Regions from separate parts of the Homo sapiens genome. Here regions 1 and 3 are each linked to region 2. Evidence: fine-mapped expression QTL. A gene starts in region 2. Each other region holds a variant in brackets. All regions are shown on one strand. Distances are from middle to middle.

Region 1 (8,185 bases), 24 kb after region 2:
AGTAATCATCCTTTTTAAACCAACTTTTTTTTTTTTTTTTTGAGATGGAGTTTTGCTCTTGTTACACAGGCTGGAGGCACAATCTCTGGTCACTGCAACCTCCACCTCCTAGGTTCAAGCGATTCTCCAGTCTCAGCCTCCCAAGTAGCTGGGATTGCAGGCGCCTGCCGCCATACTTGGTTAATTTTTGTATTTTCAGTAGAGACGGAGTTTCACCATGTTGGCCAGGGTCGTCTGGAACCCCTGACCTCAGGTGATCTGCCCATCTCAGCCTCCCAAAGTGCTGGGATTACAGGTGAGAGCCACTGTGCCCGGCTTTTTTTTTTTTTTTTTTTTTTTTTTTTTTTTTGAGACAGGTTCTCCCCCTGTCACCCAGGCTGGAGTGCAGTGGCATGATCATGGCTCACTGCAGCCTCAGCCTCCTGGGCTCAAGTGATCCTCCCACCTCAGCCTCCCGAGTAGCTGGAACCACAGGCACACCCAGTTAAATTTGGGATTTATTTGTAGATGCCAGGTTTTGCTATGTTGTCTGGGCTGGTGTTGAACTCCTGAGCTCCTCAGCCTCCCAAAGTGCTGGGATTTCAGTCATGAGCCGCCACGCCTGACAACACTGGGATATTATATAGCTATTTAAAAAGAATCAGAAGTAGCCAGGTATGGTGGCTCATGCCTGCAACACCAGCACTTTGGGAGCCCGAGGCGGGTGAATCACGTGAGGTCAGGGGTTCAGACCAGCCTGGCCAACATAGTGAAACGCCATCTTTACTAAAAATACAAAAATTAGCTGGGCGTGGTGATTGCATGCCTGTAATCCCAACTACTCAGGAGGCTGAGGCAGGAGGATCACCTGAACCCAGGAGGTGGAGGTTGCAGTGAGCTGAGATCGTGCCACTGCACTCCAGCCTTGGTGACAGCAAGATTCCATCCCCAAAAAATAAAAATAACAAAAATAAAAAGAATCAGAAGTATCCATATGTTGTTGAGGTATTAACTCACAATATACAGATAAGTGAAAGAACAAAGGGCAAAATAGTACACAAATATGCTGTGTTTTATCTAAGAAGGGGATAATATGAGTACACTCATATACATAAGTATCTTGTTATATTTTTCTTAAAAAACTAATTGGCCGGGTGTAGTGGCTCATTCCTGTAATCCCAGCACTTTGGGAGGCTTCAGCAGGAGGATTGCGTGAGGCCAGTGGTTCGAGACTGGCTTGGGCAATGTAGCTAGACCCAGTTTCTACGAGAAATACAAAAATTAGCTGGATGTCTTGGTACATGCCTGTAGTCCTAGCTACTTGGGAGGCTGAGGTGGGAAGATCACCTGAGCCCAGGGAAGTTGAGGCTACAGCGAAGCATTTAGCCTCTGCACTCCAGCCTAGGTGACAGTGAGACTGTATCTCAAATAAATAAACCAGTAAAAATGTTTACCTGTAGGGAGAGAGATAAAATGGTAGGACTGAAACTTTTCTTAGCGTAGGTTTGACTTGAGAACCAAGTAAATGTTTTACATAATTACAAAATCAAAATGAAAAAAGAGAATAGCAGGAATCTTAAGAATCAAAAGCAACCTCACACTCATTAGGATGGCTATCATGAAAATAACAAGTGTTGGCAAGGATGTGGAGAAATTGGAACTCTTGAGCACTGTTGGTGGGAATGCAAAATGATGCAGCTACTATGGAAAATAGTATGGCAGTTCCTCAAAAATTAAGAATAGTATTATCAGGGCCGGGTGTGGTGGCTCACACCTATAATCCCAGCACTTTGGGAGACCGAGGCAGGCTGATCACCTGAGTTTGGGAGTTCAAGACCAGCCTGACCAACATGAAGAAATCCCGTCTCTTCATGTATTTTTTTGTAGCGATGGGATTTCATCATGTTGCCCAGGCTGGTCTCGAACTGGAACTCTTGGGCTCAAGTGATCCTCCCACCTCAGCCTCCCAAGGTGCTGGGATTACAGGTGTGAGTCACCAGGCCTAGCCAAAAATCTTAAAACTGTTTTTAGTCATCATATTGTTAGTAGTAATAATGTTGTAAAATATTTAAATATGTGGAAACGTTTTAGATTATTAATACTAATGCATAGTATATATTTTATACATTTACTTTATGTTTCATAGTATATAAAGCACAAATAGGCAACTATGTTGGTGTTATCAAGAACCAAGATTTTTCAGTGTAAGAGAAGAGAAATCTAAACAAAGTTAAGCTCAAGTCACATTCCCATTTAAAAGGAAGCATAGTTTTGACTACTAGTATAAGATAAAGGATAGAACATAAACTACCCTAAGTATCCAATAGGCAAAATTCAATAAATGGTAAATTCTACAAATGATCTGGTTTCTTCAGTAAATTGAAAGAAAGAAAAAATAAAGACCCTATGCTTAAGTGATCCTTTGAGCAAATACTTTGTGTGGACTTCTAGATTCTGATCAGACTAGTCTTTAGGACAATAAGGAATTATAGTTAATTTCTTGAAGTCTGACAATGGTATCATATTTATGTTAAAAAGAAAAGGAGGCCAGGCACGGTGGCTAACACCTATAATTCCAGTACTTTGGGAGGCCGAGGCAGGTGGATCACGAGGTCTGGAGTTCAAGACCAACCTGACCAAGATGGTGAAACCCTGTCTCTACTAAAAATACAAAAATTAGCCAGTTATGGTGGCAGGCGTCTGTGATTCCAACTACTTGGGAGGCTGAGGCAGAGAATTGCTTGAACCTGGGATGCGGAGAATGCAGTGAGCTGAGATCACGCCACTGCCCTCCAGCCTGGACGACAGAGCGAGACTCCTACCACAAAAACGAAAGGAAAAAAAAAGGAATTGGCCGGGCGTGGTGGCCACACCTGTAATCCCAGCACTTTGGGAGGCCAAGCGGGGTGGATCACGAGATCGGGAGATGGAGACTATCCTGGCCAACATGGTGAAACCTGTCTGTACTAAAAATAAAAAAAATTAGCTGGGCGCGATGGCACACGCTTGTAATCCAAGCTACTCGGGAGGCTGAGGCAGGAGAATCGCTTGAACCTGGGAGGCAGGGGTTGCAGTGAGCCAAGATCATGCCACTGCACTCCAGCCTGGCGACAGAGCGAGACTCAGTCTCAAAAAAAAATTTATTTTTATTATTATTATAATTTTTTTGAGATGGGAGTCTCACTCTGTTTCCCAGGCTGGAGTGTAGCGACGCGATCTCGGCCCACTGCAACCTCCGCTGCCCGAGTTCAAGCAATTCTCCTGCTTCAGCTTGCCAAGTAGCTGAGATTACAGGCACCTG[C/T]CACTGCGCCCGGCTAATTTTTTGTATTCTTTGAACTCCTGACCTCATGATCCACCTGCCTTGGCCTCCCAAAGTGTTGGGATTTACAGGTATGAGCCACCGCGCCCAGCCTTATTTTTATTTTTATTTTTTTTGAGACAGAGTCTCACTCTATTTCCCAGGCCAGAGGTCAGTGGCATGATCTCGGCTCACTACAACGTCTGCCCTCTGGGTTCAAGAGATTCTCGTTTCCCAGCCTCCTGAGTACCTGGCATTACAGGCATGAGCCACTGTGACTGGCCAATTTTTGTATTTTTATTAAAGACAGGGTTTCATCGTGTTGGCCAGGCTGTTCTTCAACTCCTAGTCTCAAGTGATCCACCCTCAGCTGCCTAAAGTATTGGGATTACAGGCGGGAGCCACGGTGCCCAGCCTGAAATATGTTAATATAGGGCATCATAACACTAGTTTCTCTACTTTGTTTTTTTTTCCCCAATTTCAGCTGTAATTTTAGGTTTCCTTTTCAGAGAAGTAGGAATTGCACCAAATTTTGGGAAAGGAAAAAATACAGTTGCGTTAAACAACAAAAACAACAAAACACTTCCTGGGAACTTGTCCTCATTTATTTCTGCTTCTCTCAATTTCCTCAAGGGAAAATTTCCATTTATCTCCTTTCATCCTTTGGAGTCTTGCTTTCTTTTCTTTCTTTTTTTTTTTTATTATTATACTTTAAGTTCTGGGGTACATGTGCACAGCGTGCAGGTTTGTTACATACGTATATGTGTGCCACGTTGGTTTGCTGTACCCATCAACTTGTCATTTACATTGAGTATTTCTACATTTACATATGTGTGAAACTATCCATAATATGATGTTTTGTTTTGTTTTGTTTTTGAGATGGAGTCTTGCTCTGTTGCCAGGCTGGCTTGCAGTGGCGAGATCTCGGCTCACTGCAATCTCCTGCTTCCTGGGTTCAAGCGATTCCCCTGCCTTGGCTTCCCGAGTAGCTGGGACTACAGGTGCCCACCACCACGCCCGGCTAGTTTTTTGTATTTTAGTAGAGACGGTTTCACCATGTTGGCCAGGATGGTCTCGATCTCCTGACTTTGTGATCCGCCTGCCTCAGACTCCCTAAGTGCTGGGATTACAGGCATGAGCCACCCCACCCGGTCCATATAGTACAATCTTAACCCAAAAAGTGTGTGTGTTTGTGTGTGTGTGTGTGTGTGTGTTTTGTTTTTGACAGAGACATGTAGGAGACAGGTGGAAAATTTGAGGCTGATGAACCAAAGAGAATTTCGAGTTTTTAGTACTATATGTGGTTGATACTTGAAGCCATGGAAATTGCCAAATTTATCAAAGAAAAGGGATTGTGTGGCCAACAGAATGTTAGAGAAATTTCAAGAGTTGAGGGCAAAGAGAAAAATCTAGAGAAGAAATTACCTGTAATGTAGAAGAAAAAGTACAGTTCACTGAAGCCATGTTTCATGCAGGATGAAGTCTAATCCTATGCAGGGATCACTGAAAGGTGACTATTGAGAAAAAGTTATTATTGGCTGTGAGGAAGTTTCAATAGCATAGTGGAATAGTAAAGCAGGTCACAGGGAACGAGGAGAGAATCTCCTCTGAGGAAGTGAAGATGAGCGGTAGCTGGATAGGATACCCTGGTTGAGGTTGTTTTTTAAGTTATAGACAACTGAGTAGTTTTGTAGAGGAGGCATCCTGTGAAAGAGAACAGAGTTGAAGGTGAAAAAACCCAGGAGGAAGGAGGAGGAGATTGAAATGAGAACATGAGTAAAATGGGAACTAGAGAAAAAGGAATAGTTAATGAGTGAGGATAGATGGAGAGATGTTGAGGGAATTCACTTTGACTTGTGAGTAAATCATATTAGAGGGGAAAAAGGTTCAGATCCAAACTGGGAACGACAGGAAAGTAAAAAAAAAAAAAAATCTATTTTAAAAACAAGATTTGTGGCCCGGGTGTAGTCGCTCATATCTGTAACCTCAACACTTTGGGAGTCCATTGTGGGAGGATCGTTTGAGCCCAGGAGTTCAAGACTAGCCTGGGCAACTCAGCCAGACCTCATCTCTACAAATAATAAAAATTGGTGTGGTGACACACGTCCGTGATCCCAACTACTTGCAAGGCTGAAGTGGGAGAATTGCTTGAGCTTGGGCATTTGAGGCTGCAGTGAGCCATGAGTGCGCCACTGCGTTCCAGCCTGGGTGACAAAGCAAGACCCCTTCTCAAATAAGATTTGTGACTTTTACTATATTTTGTAATTTCTATTCTTATTTTTCTTATTTTCTTTTATTCTCTTGTAGTTCCTATTCCTTTAAAATGAGTAGTGAATTTAGGTAAACCTTCATAGTTAAATTAGAAATAATTGTATGTACATGATTTCCCTGAAAACATTTGGGAGTAAAATAAAATGTATTAGAGAAGCACTAAAAGATTACGGAAGACCTTTTCTTTTTTCTTTTGTTCCTCCCCCAAAGTGCCCGGTTCCTCTCTATCTAGAACATACGGTTTTTTGTCTTGGAAACCTTTTAGTAGCACACACTTACTAGTATTTATGATACTGTTTAGTAAATGGTCAACTTAGAGGCTAGACCTTTGGATATAATCTCATTGTATGATAATTTTTGTATTTATACTTTTTTCCTGAAATGTTACATTTGTCTTTTAAAATTCTACTTAATTATATTCTAATCCTTAACTTAAAAGTTACCAGCTTGCAAACATTTGCTATTCCAGGCTCTATATTTCTCAGTATACTCTCAGGGTTTCTTTATCCCTTTCCACTAGCCTTATTTCTTGTTTGTTTGGTAAGTATGAAAAAATAAAATTGGGAGACTGAAAAAACAATAGAATGATGAGGATGATGATGATACTTTAACCCTACTAGTCTATGTAAGCATAAACTCATTAATTGAAGAGGAGTTAATGTTAAAGTCCCTCCACAAGGAGGTGTTATAATTTGTTTTTCCCCCAGAACAGACCAATTATAGACTTAGTTGCATTTATAAGCTATGTTTTAGCTTTTCTTTCCTATTGGATTTTGTAACTGCGACAGTCCAAGGAGTGTTGGTGAGCACAATGAGTTAAGTCCCAGAGCCAGAGGTGGTGTTTTCAAGCTTAGGAACTGGGGGGGTCGGGGGTAGGGTCGGGGGGAGGTGGAAATTGGCTCCTGAAATTTTATTCTTAGGCTAAAGCCTAGCATTAATTATTTGGATATAGTCACTAGGTGTAATCACAAGTGCCAGTTTGTTTTAGCTGATCTCATTTGAGGTACATTTTGGTCTGAGAAAGTACTAGATCATCTCTGCACAAGAGATGTCATGCAGAGTACCCTCCCCACCTCTGAAAGAAGTAAATTAATTGAGCTTTTTACTCAGGTGAATAAATCAATGTGAGTAAGACGGAAAAATACAAAACGCTTATGGCTTCTTTTGTTTTCCAGTGTTCTGGACTTGGTGCCTCTTTCTGTTATATGCTTTCCTATTTAGTTGGGAGACCAGTTGTATACAAATACCTAACAGAGAAAGCAGTAAAATGGTCACAGCAGGTAAACATGTATTTTTAAATTATTTGATGTAACTCTTTGTTAATTGGAAGGTCTGTGTTTAGTCCCTACATGAATTAACTACATGTATTAACCCAACATAAATTAATTCCTAAGTTAACTCAAGTAATAAGAATTATCTTCTGACCAAATAAAAATGGGTGGTAGGCAAATATGAATGTTAATAATTTCAAATACAAATGTTTCAGACCTGTGATGGTAATTTTAATTCTTTATCTTAGTAAATTTAATCAGCAGAGAAGTCAGTGTGAATATAAAGGCATCCACATAATTAGATACCTATCTGTTTTATGTTAATGCAGTATTGTGTGCATCTGTTATGGAAACACTTGTATCAGCCAACTCCCAGTGCATTTTTTTCTTTTCTTTTTTTGAGACGGAGTCTTACTCTGTCACCCAGGCTGGAGTGCAGTGGCATGACCTCGGCTCACTGCAACCTCTGCCTCCTCGGTTCAAGCATTTCTCCTGCCTGCCTCAGCCTCCCAAGTAGCTGGGATTATAGGTACATGCCACCACGCCTGGCTAATTTTTTGTATTTTTAGTAGAGACAGGGTTTTACCATGTTGGCCAGGCTGGTCTCGAACTCCAGACCTCAGGTGACCCACCTGCCTCAACCTCCCAAAGTGCTGGGATTATAGGCATGAGTCACCACTGGCCTTTTTTGATGATTTCTTTTCTTTTTTGAGTCAGAGTTTCGCTCTTGTTGCCCAAGCTGAAGTGCAGTGGCGTGATCTTGGCTCATTGCAACCTCTGCCTCCCGGGTTCAAGCGATTCTCCTGCCTCAGCCTCCCAAGTAGCTAGGATTTCAGGCACATGCCACCATGCCCGGCTAATTTTTTGTATTTTTAGTAGAAACGGGTTTCACCATGTTAGCCAGGCTGTTCTCGAACTCCTGACCTCAGGTGATCCGCCTGCCTCAGCCTCCCAAAGTGCTGGGATTACAGGCATGAACCACCTCGCCAGCCTGATCATTTCTATTGGGTATACTCTGAAGTATCAGGAATGAGAATTTGAAATAAGGTGTTTATATTAAGCAACTTATTTTGAAGTTGTCCTCATCTGATGCTAATTCTTTTCTTTCTTATGACAGGTTGAACGTCATAGAGAACATCTCATTAACTACATTATATTTTTGAGAATAACACCATTTCTGCCTAATTGGTTTATTAATATCACATCTCCTGTGATAAACGTGCCATTGAAAGTTTTTTTTATTGGTACTTTTCTAGGTAAGCCCTCTGGTTCTTGCTGTGTATGAGCTCACTGTGTACATATCTAACAGTGTCCAGCTGGGCTAGATTACATGCATGCTCTCTGCAGATTATGCCAGCACCATCTA
Region 2 (8,185 bases):
GGCTGTAATCCCAGCACTGGGAGGCCGAGGTGGGCAGATCACCTGAGGTCGGGAGTTCGAGACCAGCCTGATCAACATGGAGAAACCCCCCTCTACTAAAAATACAAAATTAGCCGGGCGTGGTAGCACATGTCTGTAATCCCAGCTACTTGGGAGGCTGAGGCAGGAAAATCGCTTGAACTGGGAGGCGGAGGTTTCCGCGAGCCAAGATCATGCCATTGCACTCCAGCGTGGCAATAAGAGTGAAACTCCATCTCAAAAAAAAAAAAAATTTTGTCTGGAATGACTATGTATATATTCATGTAATTAAAGTAATAAAAGTTTAGAGATAGTTCTTCTCATACATAATCTTATATCTGGTATCTTCTTTTTGTCTCCAGTACACTATGCTAGGTCAGGCCAGGATTATTGCAGTAATCTCCTAACTTCTCTTTCTGCTGTTGATTTGGCACACTTCCATAAGGCGGTCAGAATAAGCTTTGAAAATTCAAATCTTTTTTTTGAGACGGAGTTTCACACTTGTTGCCCTGGCTGGAGTGCAATGGCACGATCCCAGCTCACTGGAACCTCTACCTCCCTGGTTCAAGCGATTCTCCTACCTCAGCCTCCCGGGTAGCTGGGATTACAGGCGCCCGCTGCCACGCCCAGCTTTTTTTTTTTTTTTTTTTTTTTTTTTTTTTTTTTTGAGATGGAGTCCTGCTCTGTCACCCAGGCTGGAGTGCAGTGTCGCGATCTCGGCTCAGTGCAAGCTCTGCCTCCTGGGTTCACACCATTCTCCTGCCTCAGCCTCCTGAGTAGCTGGGATTACAGGCGCCTGCCACCACGCCCGGATAATTCTTTGTATTTTTAGTAGAGACGGGGTTTCACCATATTAGCCAGGATGGTCTTGATCTCCCCACCTCGTGATCCGCCCACCTCGGCCTCCCAAAGTGCTGGGATTACAGGCGTGAGCCACCACACCCGGCCACACCCAGCTAATTTTTTGTACTTTTAGTAGAGACGGGTTTTCAAACTGGTCTTGAACTCCTGACCTCAGGTGATCCAACCATCTCAGCCTCCCAAAGTGCTGGGATTACAGGGGTGAGCCAATGTGCCCGGCCAAAAATACAAATCTTACTAAGTCCCTCTCTGGTTAAATATCTTTGAGGATTAAGTTCAAACTTTTAGCAGTTTGTGATAAGGTCCTGGTCTCATATCTTTCGTAGCATTTCTTTCCATTCTCCCACCCTTTGCTTGAAGCTTTTTTTCTAATATAAGCAGTAGCTTCTAGCCTTTGCAAAAGCTATTTTCTCTGCTTTCAACTTTGTTAATTCCTATTCATCCTCTAAAAATCAGTTTTAATCCTGCTTCCTGGGAGACTTTACAGCCCCACTGTAATTTAGATATTCCTCTCTTCTGCTATTGCAATCTGCGCACCCCTCAGTCACTCTTATCACACTGCACTGAGGTTGTTCATCTTTTCCTAATTTTTTGGAATTTCCTAAGTTTTGGAGTTGGCTTTCCCACTGCGCACTCAGATGTCTTAAGCACATTTAATTTTTTCTTCTGTGTGTTGATAATTCATATTCTTTGCCCATTTTTCTGTTGAGTTGTGCTTTCCTTACTGATTTGTAGTAATTCTTATGTGTCAAATACTTCTCAGTGTTTGTTTTTAGTTTTTGTTGTACTTCAATTTTTAATGTTTGCATAGTAAAATATATAAAATGTTTTCTTTTTTTTTTTTTTGACTTGAACTCCCGACCTCAAGGTGATCCGCCCACCTTGGTCTCCCAAAGTGCTGAAATTACAGGTGTAAGCCATGGCACCTGGCCCATAAATATAATTTCCTAAGATTGAAAATTTATTCGGCTGGGCACCATCTCAAAAAAAAAAATTATTCAACAAATTCATTGAATGGCCACTTAGGTATTGGCACTCTGTCAGCTACCGGGGATACAATGGTGATCAAAAAGACAAAGCCCAGCTGGGAGCCATAGCATGGAGCCTGTAGTCCCAGCTACTCAGAGGGCTGATGCTTGAGGATCCCTTGAGTCCAGAAGTTCAGATCCAGCCTGGACAATATAGTGAGATTCCCATCACTTAAAAAAACAAAAAACAAAAAGACAAAGCCCCTGCCTTAAAGCTTATATTCTAAAGGTGGAGGCAGACAATAAACAAGTAAACAAATAGTTCACAGAATTAATTGCTTTTAATGACTATGAAGGAAATAAAATGGGAGCCAGAAGTAGGCAAAGGATGTGTACATAAAACAGTTCAATTGAATGGGTTTCCCATAATTTACTTAACCATTTTTATTTAGTGTTGGATTTTTATATTGCTTTTAGTTTTTCACTGTTATACTAATACAGAGGAATTATTTATGTTTATTTTCATGGAATAATTTCCTACAAATGTAATTACTGAATAGAAACAATCAGGATTTTTTTTTTTTTTTTTTGGGACGGAGTCTTGCTTTGTGGTCTATGCTGGAGTGCAGCGGTGCAATTTCTCACCGCAACCTCAGCCTCCGGGGTTCAAGCGATTCTCCTGACTCACACTCTCGAGTAGCTGGGATTACAAGCCATCATGTCCAGCTCATTTTTGTATTTTTAGCAGAGACGGGGTCTCATCTCACCATTTTGGCCAGTCTGGCCTCACACTCCTGGTCTCAAATGATCCGCCCGCCTTGGCCTCCCAAAGTGTTGGGATTACAGGCTTGAGCCACCGCGACCGGCCTCTAAGTTGCTTTCAAGAGGTAACCACGGTGAGTAAGCTGAATGTGCTCTGAGGGGTAGAAGCAGAAAAAGTTACCTGTGGAAAAGGCATGTTTCCGCTTAGCTTAGGGATAAGCTAAATGTAGAGCTGACTTGGGTTTAGTAGTAAGGGGCAGCAGCTAATGCAAAACCGTTAGCTTTGGGAACAGGACAACCTGGATTCTAAGCCCATTTTTGCCATCCTGTGATCTTCACAGGTTGTACGTAGCCCTCTCTGAGCCTTAGTTTCCTGAAATTCAGGTAGGTTTTGCTCAACCTTTGTATTTCCCACCATCTTTTAGATCAAGCACTCTCTGGCGCCTCCAAATTGAAGACAGCAGCTGCGGAATTGATGTAATGGGCTGAATCAGCCTCAGCCGCGAAATGCCGACTAATCACAGGCACCTCCGGCGGCCTGGACAAAAGGTTTGAAGTCCCTGGGACCGCACTTCCGGGTAATTAAGGCTACGCTTTAGACGCCAGGGCCAGCGAGTCGCAGCCGGGTGACTCGAGTGCCGCGACTGCGCATGCTCTCGCCCCAGCGCCCGGCGGCCACCTCTTTCCCGCGGGCGGGCCGGGGCGGGGCACTGAAGGGGGCGGTCCAGGACCCTGACTTGTCTCGCGGTTACTGGGCCGGCGCGAGCACGCGAGGCTCGGGGGCGGCACGGGGCGGGGTTTAGCCTGTGGTGGGCGCTGCGGGTGTTTGCAGGAGGTTGCAGTACTCGCTGGGCTGAGGTCGTCTCGGGTGAGGAGGTCGCGCCGGAAGTGGCTCTAGCCGTGGCGCTTCGGCGTAGTAAGGAGCCTGCAACAGAGTTTTGTTGTTTAGGGGGCGCGGCACCGCACCGCTCCCTTCACCTTGCAGCAGCCATGGCGAAAGGCAGAGTCGCCGAACGATCGCAGTTGGGCGCTCACCACACGACCCCCGTGGGGGACGGGGCAGCGGGGACGCGGGGTCTCGCGGCGCCTGGCAGCAGAGACCACCAGAAGGGTGAGTGGGCCCGGGGAGCAGAGCTGGGGGTGGCCCGAGGCTTCTGTGTGTCGGGTGGGGAAAAGGACCCCCGCTATTCTCGGAGAGTCGCGGGGAAAGAGGGGGGCCTGCTGGCGCCGCGGCGGGAGCAGAGACCGTGGGGGAGTTGGGCTTGGGCGCTCGCGCAGCACAAGGCCGGACGCCGAGTAGGTGCGTTGTAAATGCTGTTTGAGTAGAATTCATTTAAAAGAAGGGATGACACTGGCTTGTTGACGCTCAGGTAGATTGTAAGGTTGATGATAACGACGCTAGGCAGAGCTGGAAGGAGCTGTACTGTGGCATTCGCTGCGTTGTTTTTACAGATGAAGAAACTGAGGCCCAGTGTGGGTATATGACTTATAAAGTCATAAAGCCAGATCAGTGAAGTAGTAGTTAGGAGCGAGGACTTAATACTTCCAGGTGGCAGTACACCTGGGCTTGAGTCCCTGCCCTACTGTTTACTTGGAACCTTGGACTTGGTAACTTTCAAAAAAAGCTCAGTGTCTGAACTGTGAAATGGGGATAATAATAATATCTACTTAATAGGTGGTGCGTGGGTTAAACGAAATAATTCACGTAAAAGATTTAGAGCAATGCTTGGATATGAAGTGGGGGCTAAATAAATATTAGCAATTACTTAGTTACAGCTAAGGTCACTCATTCTAAAGTTTATTTCCCCACTACATCATCCTGACATTTCTCACGGCTTTATTTTTGGTTTTTGTTTTCTCTTTATTCCTACTGCCTCTATAATTGCAGAATCTCACGGCTTTAAATATTGTTTTAAGGAAAAAACTGTACGTAGAAACTAAATACTTTGATTCCGTGTTGGCCTGGAATCGTTCTTTAAATGATTTTAAAGCTCATAAACTTAAAGTGATCCTAACAAGTTTGTCTGTAGCTCACATAGGTGTGTTCCACCACCAGTGATGGCTAGGAGAACTTCTAAGAGTATGTAGTAGAAAATGTTAATGTATTTTCAAATAATTTAAAATGTCTCCAACAGTCTAATTTGGCTCTGTCAGCCTTATGTTTTTGGGTATTTTTCCAGCTTATATACACTGGATCCAGGTGACTTCATATAATTTCAAAAACTGAGAAATGAATCGTTGTTAATGTATAAATCAGCTCTGAATAAAAGAAAGATTGTTTTGAAGACTCTACTACTGAGGGTGACAATATTCCAAGGTCTGGGTTTCCTGAAAAAGTGTTCCAGATAGGGCATCCCTAAAAATTGACATCTCATTTGAGGTAGCAGCCAGTTGTATTCATGATTTTTACCTAAAGCTATTCAAAAAATAAAACCTTGAAACTTCCAAAGTGCTCTTACTTTTTAATCTTATTTTATCATTACAACAAAACATTCAACACAATTATTCTTTTTTTTTTTTTTTTTTTTGAGACGGAGTCTCGGTCTGTCACCCAGGCTGGAGTGCAGTGGCGCAATCTTGGCTCACTGCAAGCTCCGCCTCCTGGGTTCACGCCATTCTCCTGCCTCAGCCTCCCGAGTAGCTGGGACTACAGGCGCCCACCACCACGCCGGGCTAATTTTTGTATTTTTAGTAGAGATGGGGTTTCACCTTGTTAGCCAGGATGGTCTCGATCTCCTGACCTGTTGATCCGCCCGCCTCGGCCTCCCAAAGTGCTGGGATTACAGGCGTGAGCCACCACGCCTGGCCTACAATTATTCTTATGATGCTGTCCCATGACATCTATAGATCACAAATCTATAGGAAGACAGGGAAGAGATGTGAAGGCGTGCCTTCACTTCATGATGAAGTAAGGCCTGTTTTTAGTGACTTGAGACAAGGCCTCGCTGTGTCACCTATGCTGGAGTGCAGTGGCATGATCATAGCTTGCTGCAGCCTCAGCTACCTGGGCTCATGCGATCTTCCCACCTCAGCCCCCTCAAATAGCTGACTACAGGTGTGTGCCACCATGCTCAGCTAATTATTTGTTTTTTGTAGAGAAGGGGCCAGGGTGTCTTGAAGTCCTGGGCTCAAGCGTCTTCCTGCCTTGGCCTCCCCAAATGCTGGAATTACAGGCATGAGCCATTGTGCTTTGCCAGATAAGTAAGGTTTGGATAAGTAAAGAGAAGGGAAGGGTATTCCAGGCTAGGAGAAAGAGAGTAGTAGGGTTGAAGGTTAGTGTGAAACTTTTATGTGTGTGGGTAGGGAGATTAATTTGTCAGGAGCAGAGGGTTTCTGTTGGGTGGTAGTAGGCGATGAGGTTGGCCTGTTCAGGATGTGTCAGAATGTTCCTGTAAATTCCATGATACTTGGAAATGAATTTGTATTCTATTAAGTGACACATATATAACTTTGACAAATAAGTAGTTATCATCATATGTATGTTTGAACTGTTTTACATGCTATCTGCAATGTTTGGTACATTTAGTGGATTCCTTGCCATTACTCTGGCCTCTAGTCTCAGAGCTAAGCCTAGTAGACTGTGGACCACTTTGACTACTTGAGTAAGGCAGAGGTAACACGGAAAGTCTAATTTTTGCATGATGAAGATGAGAGAGCAGACAGGAGGTGAAACTAGTTAAGAAGCTCTTGAGAATGCATCAAGCCCAGGCAGCAGTGGAAAGGCTGGAGGACACACCTAAACATGTGGAATCCCAGTGCCAGGCAGCCAGGGCCAAATCCATATCCACCCAACATTGGGTGCCCTGGAGGTTCCAATCCTGCCCACTCACCACCTATCAACCCACCCTTTCCCCCAGGCCCCTGTCCTCCTCCCCCAGGAGCTCCGCAAGGCAATTCAGCTTTCCCCCCAGGTTGGCCCCCTCATCCTGTGCCACAGCCAGGGTATCCAGGATGCCAATCCTCGGGTCCCTACCCTCCTCCATACCCACCGTCTGCTCCTGGAATGCCTCCTGTGAGTCCCTTGGCTCCTGGCATGGTTGGACCAGCAGTGATAGTGGGCAAGAAGATACAGAAGAAAATGAAGAAAGCTCATAAAAAGATGCACAAGCATAGCAAGCATTCCTCCTCCTCTTCCAGCAGTGATTCTGACTGAATACAGGCCCTGGGTCCTTCCCTCAAGTCTCACCAGTTCTGCTCTCCTATCAAGCTTCAGATGCCATGTTGTATTGGGGGAAAGTAGCCCTTGTGCTCCCCACACCCTACCCCCGCCTGAGCTTCACCCTGCTGTTGAGCCCTGAGTGGCTAGGGAAAATGGGAAGAGAATTGGCATGGCCTGGCCATCTTGTTGTTGCTTGGATAGATCATATAGCTAATGAGTTTAGCAGGGGAGCTGTTTTTTGAAGATGATGAACTAAATGTTGAAGACAAGTTTGAGATCTGTAAAATGTGATTTTTTACTTCTGCTTATAATACTCATGATTGGGGAGGATTGTGGAAATTTAATTATGATGAAAAACCTCTATCTTTTTTGTAATGTTGGCATACTTGGGGAATTTAGTGGAAAATACATTCCCCAGCAGGCCTTTTGTTGGTTGCACTAACTGCAAGGTTGCTGGGAAGTAGAGTCTGTTTGGTCGATGAGCTTTGACTGCCATTTTGGAACCTTACCTCTCCTCCTTAGCCCAGTATGCTATCTCAGGTCCTATTCTTGTTCTCCAGCTCTCAGTCCAAATAAAGTTATTTCTCCTGGTTAAAAAAAAAAAAAAAAAAAAAAAAGGGCTCTTAACCTAATCGGTTTGAAGGTGACTGGACTAGAGTACATAACTTTTTTGGTGGTGTTTGCCCCGACCTATGTATTTACTAGCAAGTTCTCCATTTTAACTTAAGAGAGCTGGACTATGTTTTTCAATATATAAGTCATGACCCTTGTGAGGGGTGTGAAATCAATTTGATGGATAATCAATAATAAGCATTTTTTTAAAAAAAATGGAATAGAAGAGAAAATATCAGTGCTTTGGGATTAAATGCTGGTTTTTTTTTGTTTAATCTTTCCTTGAGTTATATAGATTTTGTGTATACCGGGTCATGTACATTACTTAGGCTGACATGGTGGCTCATGCCTGTAATCCCAGCACTTTGGGAGGCCGAGGCGGGCGGAACATGAGGTCAGGAGTTCAAGACCAGCCTGACTAACATGAAGAAGCCCTGTCTCTACTAAAAATACAAAAATTAGCTGGGCATGGTGGTGCACACCTGTAATCCCAGCTACTTGGGAGGCTGAGGCAGGAGAATCACTTGAACCCAGGAGGTGGAGTTTGCAGTGAGCCAAGATAGCGCCACTGCACTCCAGTCTGGGTGATAGAGTGAGACTCCATCTCAAAAAAAAATAATAATAATAATAATACATTACTTGGAACACAATCAAAAAAGATTGAAAAACACTGTCTCAAAGTTGATTTTATTGCTTCTAGAAAACAATATTTTTTTTTGTTCTTTTGTTTTTTTTTTTGAGATGGAGTCTTGCTCTGTCACCCAGGCTGGAGTGCAGTGGTGCGATCTTGGCTCACTTGCAACCT
Region 3 (8,185 bases), 34 kb after region 2:
GGCTGAGGCGTGTGAATTGCCTGAGCCTGGGAGTTACAGAGACCAGCCTGGGCAATATGGCAAAACCCCCTCTCTTGACAAAAAATTCAAAAATTTTGCCTGGGTGTGGTGGTACACGCCTGTAGTCCCAGCTGCTCAGAAAGCTGAGGTGGGACAATCACCTGAGCCTCGAGAGACTGAGGCTGCAATGAGTGATGATTGCACCACTGCACTCAAGCCTGTGCGATAGAGTCAAACTCTCGGGGGGAGAAAACAAAAGCATTTTTGATAAATGTAAAACTATTTTCTGGGCCCTTTTCTTGCGTTTTTAAAATTCATTATTCTGGCCAGGTGCAGGGGCTCATGCCTGTAATCCCAGCACTTTGGGAGGCTGAGGTGGGCGGATCATCTGAGGTCGGGAGTTTGAGACCATTCTGACCAACATGGAGAAACCCCATCTCTACTGAAAATACAAAATTAGCCGGGTGTGGTGGCACATGCCTGTAATCCCAGCTACTCGGGAGGCTGAGGCAGGAGAATTGTTTGAACCCGGGAGGCGGAGGTTGCAGTGAGCCAAGATCGCGCCATCGTGTTCCAGCGGGGGCAACAAGAGCGAAACTCCGTCTCAAAAAAAAAAAAAATCATTATCCTTAAGAGGTGATTAGGAAAGATTGAATTCTTTATATGGAAATAAACTTGAGCTTTAAATTCTTAATTTTTTTTCCAAAATGGAAATAGCTGTGTTGTTTTAAGAAACTTTATGCACACAGAACATTTTAATTTTTTAAAAACAATTGCGGTGGTTTTTACTGTATCTTTTTATATTTTATTTCAGGTGTCGCACCTCCTTCTTTTGTAGCCATTAAGGCAGGAACAACACTGTATCAACTTACAACAGCAGGAGAAGCTGTTTCCTGGAACTCAATATTTATTCTGATGATCTTGGCTGTTCTTTCTATTCTGCCAGCCATCTTCCAAAAAAAACTAAAGCAGAAATTTGAGTAAAAATAATCATCTGATTTTTAGTTTTGCTGTCATCACCATCTCAGGATTAACAGGTGCATCCATTTATGTTTTAAAATCACCTCTTCAGTAATTAAACAAGGAATTTGTAAAATAAAATTTCCTATCAGATAGTTAAAGTAATACATTTAAGTGACAAGGGGAGAAGAAAGTAAAAATGGAAATTGGTATACTGTGAAAAGTGCTATCAATAGTTAAGGTAGACATCTTAGACATCTTATAAATTATTATACCAAGGGTAGCTGTAGATAATAGTAGTGTGGTAGGAAATTGTTGATCCAGCTAATTCATTCAATTTAATTGAATATTTTTTATCTTTAATAACTAAAATAGATATTTTTAAATTCTAGATTTTTTAAAGTAGTGTTGCAGGTTTTGTTAATGTTAGGCTTTTTTCAGAGCATAAACTGGAAAACTTAAAAAGAGATTTACATTTTCTTCCTCTTTTTTTTTTTTTTTTTTTTTCTGTTTTGAGACGGAGTCTAGCTCTGCCGCCCAGGCTGGAGTGCAGTGGCGCGATCTCCACTCACTGCAAGCTCCACCTCCTGGGTTCACGCCATTCTCCTGTCTCAGCCTCCTGAGTAGCTGGGACTACAGGCGCCCGCCACCATGCCCAGCTAATTTTTTTGTATTTTTAGTAGAGACGGGGTTTCACCGTGTTAGCCAGGATGGTCTCGATCTCCTGACCTCGTGATCTGCCCGCCTTGGCCTCCCAAAGTGCTGGGATTACAGGCGTGAGCCACCGCGCCTGGCCCATTTTCTTCCTCTTTTGAGGTAATGGATTTGTTTGGAGATGGCATGTTAGTAGACGACTGAATATGGAAAGGATATCAAGTTATCTATTTTGTTAATTTTATTTTTGTTTTTTATCATCTAGATTTTTATCATGGATTAGTCTGAAATTTAAAGTTCTGGCCAGTCGGTTTTCTTTCATCTTGTAGTTTTTACAGTATTTCCACTGTGCATATGCAAAATGGGTATTACATAACTGTATCATATTTGGTATTGATAATTTTTTTTTTTTTTGAGACGGAGTCTTGCTGTTGCCCAGGCTGGAGTGGAGTGCGTGGTGTGATCTCGGCTCACTGCAAACTCCGCCTCCTGGGTTCAAGCGATTCTCCTGGCCCAGCCTCCTGAGTAGCTGGGATTACAGGTGTGTGCCACCGTGCCCAGCTAATTTTTGTGTTTTTAGTAGAGACGGGGTTTCACCATGTTGGCCGGGCTGGTCTTGAACTCCTGACCTCAGGCTATATGCCCACTTCCACCTCCCAAAGTGCTGGGATTACAGGCATGAGCCACTGTGCCCAGCCTGGTATTGATAATTTATATTCAGATAATTTGTTATGGCTCTTTAATATCCCACAAGGGGCTCTAAAAAGCAAACATTCAAGAGTATGTAGTTTTTAGACATTAAGTTAATTATTTTAAACAGTGACAGCAAAACACAAGTGATTAAATATAGTTTATTTGTTCCAATGACTAAATTTTACCTCATTTATTAATCTGGTCATTAAGGAATATATTTAATAATATTATGTAATTATTCTTTTTATGCATGATACACCTAGAAAAATGCCTTTTGTTTCTATTGATGGCTTTGTTGTTTGGAGCTACTTTTGATTACTTATTGCAGTTTCCCAATTTAGTCTTTACTTTATCTAACTCACAAAGTAAAATTAACTGATCACATGGCAACTACTGTATTTAAATAGTTCTGGAAAAATGAAAGTGCTTTTTGCTGCTTGGTAAATGGGTAATGCCCTTGATTCCTTGACTGTAGGACATAGCTGATCTAAAGTACTCTGTCAGTTTTACCTTCACCCATGACTGTTATTAGTTGTCAAAGTTGAAAAGTACTTTAGCTGTGAGAAATCCTTGTATGTTTTTATTATAAGAGGTATAATCATCCTCAAAGCCTGTTTTTATTACATGATGTGGACTGATTATTTTTTCTATCACAGTGTTAACAGATGGATTTTATTGTAAATACAAAGAAAACATATTGATTATTGTAGTATTCTTATGTCACCTGGCCTTTTGCGTGAGATTATTTATTATTTCTAGCAAGGCTTTCTTCCTTTCTTATTGCCCAGAGACTGACTGATACATCTTTTGTTATTTTTACACATAAATTAAACATAGCCTTTTTGGACAAATTCACTAAATATTAATGTATAAAATGTAATTGAGTAAATTTTTATCAGAATTTTAAAAATAAAAGAGCTTAGACTCAGTAGAACTCAGTAGAAGCTTCACTATTTACTCCAGCGTGTGTAAATTGTACTTACTCTATTCTCAGAGTATATTTACTGTCCTTACCATTGATTCTTTCCCTTTGCTAATTTTTTTTTTTGTTAATGGTAGCTGCGACTTTAGGTGGGGTATATTT[T/C]CTTCTCCTAAGAGAATAGACAGTTTTTCCAGATTCATCATCATTGACTGTCAAGAAAGGACCCTTCAGCAAGGCTGTACCCTCAATGCAGTTGATGGCCTGTCTTCACGGATTTACAGACTTGGCCTGATGCCCATGTAAATTCAAGCTTTGGCTTGTGGTAACAACCACAAGAAGACAAGCATCTGTGGTGCGGAGGCAAGCAGGCTAACTAGGAGTTGACAAGCTAAGAAAGTGAAACTGTTCTTTCTTAGTTAACTGTCTTTCTCTGGAGCTCTGTTATTTTGAGTATAATATTTCCATGACACTTAGTAAATGCAAGCTAAAATGTAATAATAATAAATTGTATTGGAGAAACCTAAATGTCACATTTGGGATTTATTTCATGGAAGTACTTACATTAAAAAACTCTGGCCGAGCAAGGTGGCTCACGCCTGTAATCCCAGCACTTTGGAAGGTCGAAGCAGGTGGATCACCTGCAGTCAGGAGTTCAAGACCAGCCTGGCCATCACAGTGAAACCCCGTCTCTACTAAACATATGAAAAATTAGCCAGGTGTGGTGGCACACGCCTATAGTCCTAGCTACTTGGGAGGCTGAGGCAGAAGAATTGCTTGAACCCAGAAGGTGGAGGTTGCCATGAGATGAAATTGTGCCACTGCATTCCAGCCTGGGCAACAGAGCCAGACTCTGTCTCAAAAAACTAAAAACAAACTCTTCGTTGAATAAAAGTATATTCTTAAATTTCGATGTACATTTTCACCACTAAGAACAATGAAATGGCCGGGCACGGTAGCTCACACCTGTAATCCTAGCACTTCCAGAGGCCAAGGTGGGTGGATCACCTGAGGTCAGGAGTTCGAGACCAGCCTGGCCAACATGGAGAAACCCCGTCTCTACTAAAAATAAAAAATTAGTTGGGTGTGGTGGTGTGCACCTGTAATCCCAGCTACTTGGGAGGCTGAGGCAGGAGAGTCGCTTGAACGCGGGAGGCAGAGGTTGTAGTGAGCCAACATCACACCAGTGTACTACAGCCTGGGTGACAAAGTGAGACTCCATCTCAAAACAGGCCAGGCGCGGTGGCTCACGGCTGTAATCCCAGCACTTTGGGAGGCCGAGGCGGGTGGAGACAAGGTCAGGAGATTGAGACCATCCTGGCTAACATGGTGAAACCCCGTCTCTACTAAAAATACAAAAAATTAGCCCGGTGTGGTGGCGGCCGCCTGTAGTCCCAGCTACTAGGGAGGCTGAGGCAGGAGAATGGCATGAACCCGGGAGGCGGAGCTTGTAGTGAGCCGAGATGGCGCCACTGCACTCCAGCCTGGGCGAGAGTACGAGACTGTATCAAAAAAAAAAAAACAACAAAATATTTAAAAATTGTTTTTTTGAGGTGGAGTGTCTCTCTGTCGCCCAGGCTGGAGTGCAGTGGCGCCATCTCGGCTTATTGCAGACTCCGCCTCCCGGGTTCACGCCATTCTCCTGCCTCAGCCTCCCGAGGAGCTGGGACTCGCGCCTGCCACCTTGCCCGGCTGGTTTTTCGCACTTTTAGTAGAGACGGGGTTTCATCGTGTTAGCCAGGATCGTCTCGATCTCCTGATTTCGTGATCCGCCCGCCTCGGCCTCTCAAAGTCCTGGGATTACAGGCGTGAGCCACGGTGCCTGGCTAAAATATTTAAAACTTGTAATTGTTGGCTTTTGAGGTTTTTTTTTTTTTTTTTGGAGACAGAGTTTCGCTTTCGTTGCCCAGGCTGGAGTGCAACGGTGCGATCTTGGCTCACTGCAACCTCTGCCTCCCAGGTTCAAGCGATTCTCCTGCCTCAGCCTCCGGAGTAGTTGGGATTACAGGCACGTGCCACCCACCACACTCAGCTAATTTTGTATTTTTAATAGAAATGGGGTTTCTCCACGTTGGTCAGACTGAACTCCCGACCTCAGGTGATTCACCCTCCTAGGCCTCCCAAAGTGTTGGGATTACAGGCGTGAGCCACCAAGCCCAGCCGGCTTTTGAAGATTCTAAAGCAATTTAAATTGTTTAGGTAAGGCCGGGCACAGTGGCTCAGGACTGTAATCCCAGCACTTTTGGAGGCCAAGATGGGCAGATTACCTGAGGTCAGGAGTTTGAGACCAGCCTGGCCAACATGGTGAAACCCTGTCTCTACTAAAAATAACAAAAATTAGCTGGACGTGGTGGCTCACGCCTGTAGTCCCAACTACTCAGGAGGCTGAGGCAGGAGAATTGCTTGAAACCAGGAGGCGGAGTTTGCAGTGAGCACCACTGCACTCCAGCCTGGGCAACAGTGTGAGACCTTGTCGCTAAATAAATAGTTGAGGTAAGTAAATATTTCCTTTTTTTTTTTTTTTTGAGACGGAGTTTCGCTCTCATTGCCCAGGCTGGAGTGCAATGGCGTGATCTCGGCTCACCGCAACCTCCGCCTCCCAGGTTCAAGCAATTCTCCTGCCTCAGCCTCCCGAGTAGCTGGGATTACAGGCATGCACCACCACGCCTGGCTAATTTTGTATTTTTATAGTAGAGACGGGGTTTCTCCATGTTGAGGCTGGTCACGAACTCCGGACCTCAGGTGATCCGCCCGCCTCAGCCTCCCAAAGTGCTGGGATTACAGGCGTGAGCCACCGCGCCTGGCCAAGTAAATATTTCTAGTACATACAATGAGTTGTTTATGAAGGAATCTTTTTAAAGTTCTCTGGCTTTTTGAAAATGTGTATAATCAAAAGGGCTGAAGCTTTCCTGATAATCATTCGGTGGTCATAGTTAAGATGTTTAGAAGATACATCTCATTGCAGTTTTCAGTATTCTCATTATTATTTTTCTTTATCTGGGACAAACTTAGTCTGGGTGACTTGAGGCAGGATATTGCTTAAGCTCTCATCCTCATTTTTCTCATCTAGAATAAAGAGGTCTAAGGTCCAGGATCCTTACAGCTCAGACATGATAAGATTCTCTGAAATTAATGAAAGTTTAATAAGCTGCCCCCAATTCAGAATATTAAATTAAGCATACCTTGCTTTGTATAGCTTGTTTTACATCTTACAATATACTTTCACACACATTTAAGTAAATTAACTTTTTTATTTTTTTGAGACAGAGTCTTGCTTTGTCATCTAGTCTGGAGTGCAGTGGCGTGATCTCGGCTCACTGCAACCTCTGCCTCCTGGGTTCAACCAATTCTCCTGCCTCAGCCTCCTGAGTAGCTGGGATTACAGGTGCCCGCCATTGCGCCCAGCTAATTTTGTATTTTTGGTAGAGACAGGGTTTCCCCATGTTGGCCAGACTGGTCTTGAACTCCTGACCTCGTGATCCACCCCAACTCGGCCTCCCAAAGTGCTGGGATTACAGGCATGAGCCACCGCGCCCAGCTAATTTTGTGTTTTTAGTAGAGACAGAGTTTCACTATGTCGGTCAGGCTGGTCTGGAACTCCTGACCTCAGGTGATCCACCCGCCTCGGCCTCCCAAAGTTCTGGCATTACAGGCATGAGCCACGGCGCCCAGTAGCTTTTCTGTTTAGTAGAGAAATGTTGGATTTGATAAATGAGGATGGAAGACAAGAAAAGAATGAAGTAGAGGCACAGGAGGAAGCCATGTGGTGAGACAGCACAATGAATGTTGACTTTCTGGTTCTGAGAGTCTTGTGTTCTGCTATTTGTTAGCAGCACGCTGGGCAACATAGCCCTACTGTTAGCTCATATGGTGGTTTTGGATGAAGTAGAAAAGGATGTCGCTGGGCACGGTGGCTCATGCCTGCAATCTCAGCACTTTGGGAGGCCAAGGCGGATTGCCTGAGCTCAGGAGTTCAAAACCACCCTGGGCAACATGGTGAAACTCCATTTCTACTAAAAATACAAATAATAATAATAATAATACCAGGGTATGGTGGAGCGCTCCTGTAATCCCAGCTACTTGGGAGGCTGAGGTGAGAGAATCGCTTGAGCCCGACAGGCCGAGGTTGCAGTGAGCCAAGATCGCACCACTGTACTCTGGCCTGGGAGACAGAACGAGACTCCATCTCAAGAAAAGAAAAAGAAGATGCCCCTTTCTTTTTTCTTTGTAGAGATGGCAGTGGGGGTGCTGGGTCTCACTGCATTGCCAAGGCTGGTCTTGAAATTCTGGGCTGAAGCAATCCTCACAGCTAGGCCTTCCAAAGTGCTGGGACTACAGGCACGCACCACTGCGCCTGGCCAGGTGCCTCTTTCTTAAGATATTTTACTGCCATCTGTTGGAAAACTGTCGTCAACCATATAAATTAATAATGAGTACAATGATGGTGTCTCATGGTACCATGTACACAAATATGAGCAGCAGCTCTGCCTGTCAGCTGCAGGGCCCCTGGGGCCAGGTTACATATGCTGATAACTCACAACTTGAGTTTAGCAAACCTTGAGGGTGGCAGGCAGGAGTTGAGCCAGCAGGCCAAGGAGTGGCCCAGCTATATCACCCCAGGGTCCCAGCCTCAAAGGTGGTCAGTTGAGTTGCTTCTCACTTTATTGTCTTGCCCATGGCAGCCCAGGTAGGTTGTTTTGGTGGGGGCTTTTGGCAGTTCCAACGTTTGTCAAAACCTACTACATGGGAGTGGTGTTTTTTCTAGGTGAAGTTTGTATAGGCTTACCAAAAAAAAAATCTATGTATTTTACATTTCACGGGAATTATATTACCTTTTATGGTCCACATATCTGTATTAATTACAAGATCTGGGACCAGGAGCAGTGGCTCACACCTGTAATTCCAGCGCTTTGGGAGGTCAAGGCAAGCAGATTGCTAGAGGCCCAAAGTTACAGACCA

Evidence for each region. PIP is the estimated chance that this variant, and not a neighbour inherited with it, causes the effect.
Region 1: its variant is fine-mapped to the expression of TMEM41B in whole blood (INTERVAL, PIP 0.97).
Region 3: its variant is fine-mapped to the expression of TMEM41B in whole blood (INTERVAL, PIP 0.99).

The regions. Positions count from the first base shown.
Region 1 is chr11:9,286,345-9,294,529 of GRCh38, reverse strand. TMEM41B (transmembrane protein 41B) reads left to right here. Exons shown (of 7, transcript NM_015012.4): 4 at 5,995-6,088; 5 at 6,724-6,828; 6 at 7,937-8,075. Among named protein-coding and RNA genes, the nearest start is that of TRL-CAA5-1, 15 kb to the right of the region's middle. The variant C/T (reference allele first, on the strand shown) is at 3,281.
Region 2 is chr11:9,309,856-9,318,040 of GRCh38, reverse strand. It overlaps TMEM41B (transmembrane protein 41B), which reads left to right and starts at 3,448. Exons shown (of 7, transcript NM_015012.4): 1 at 3,448-3,720. The coding sequence starts at 3,600. It also overlaps the pseudogene PRR13P2. RefSeq lists a silencer at 3,109-3,458 and enhancers at 3,224-3,739, 3,740-4,257.
Region 3 is chr11:9,276,223-9,284,407 of GRCh38, reverse strand. It overlaps TMEM41B (transmembrane protein 41B), which reads left to right. Exons shown (of 7, transcript NM_015012.4): 7 at 815-3,754. The coding sequence ends at 984. Among named protein-coding and RNA genes, the nearest start is that of TRL-CAA5-1, 5.1 kb to the right of the region's middle. The variant T/C (reference allele first, on the strand shown) is at 3,392.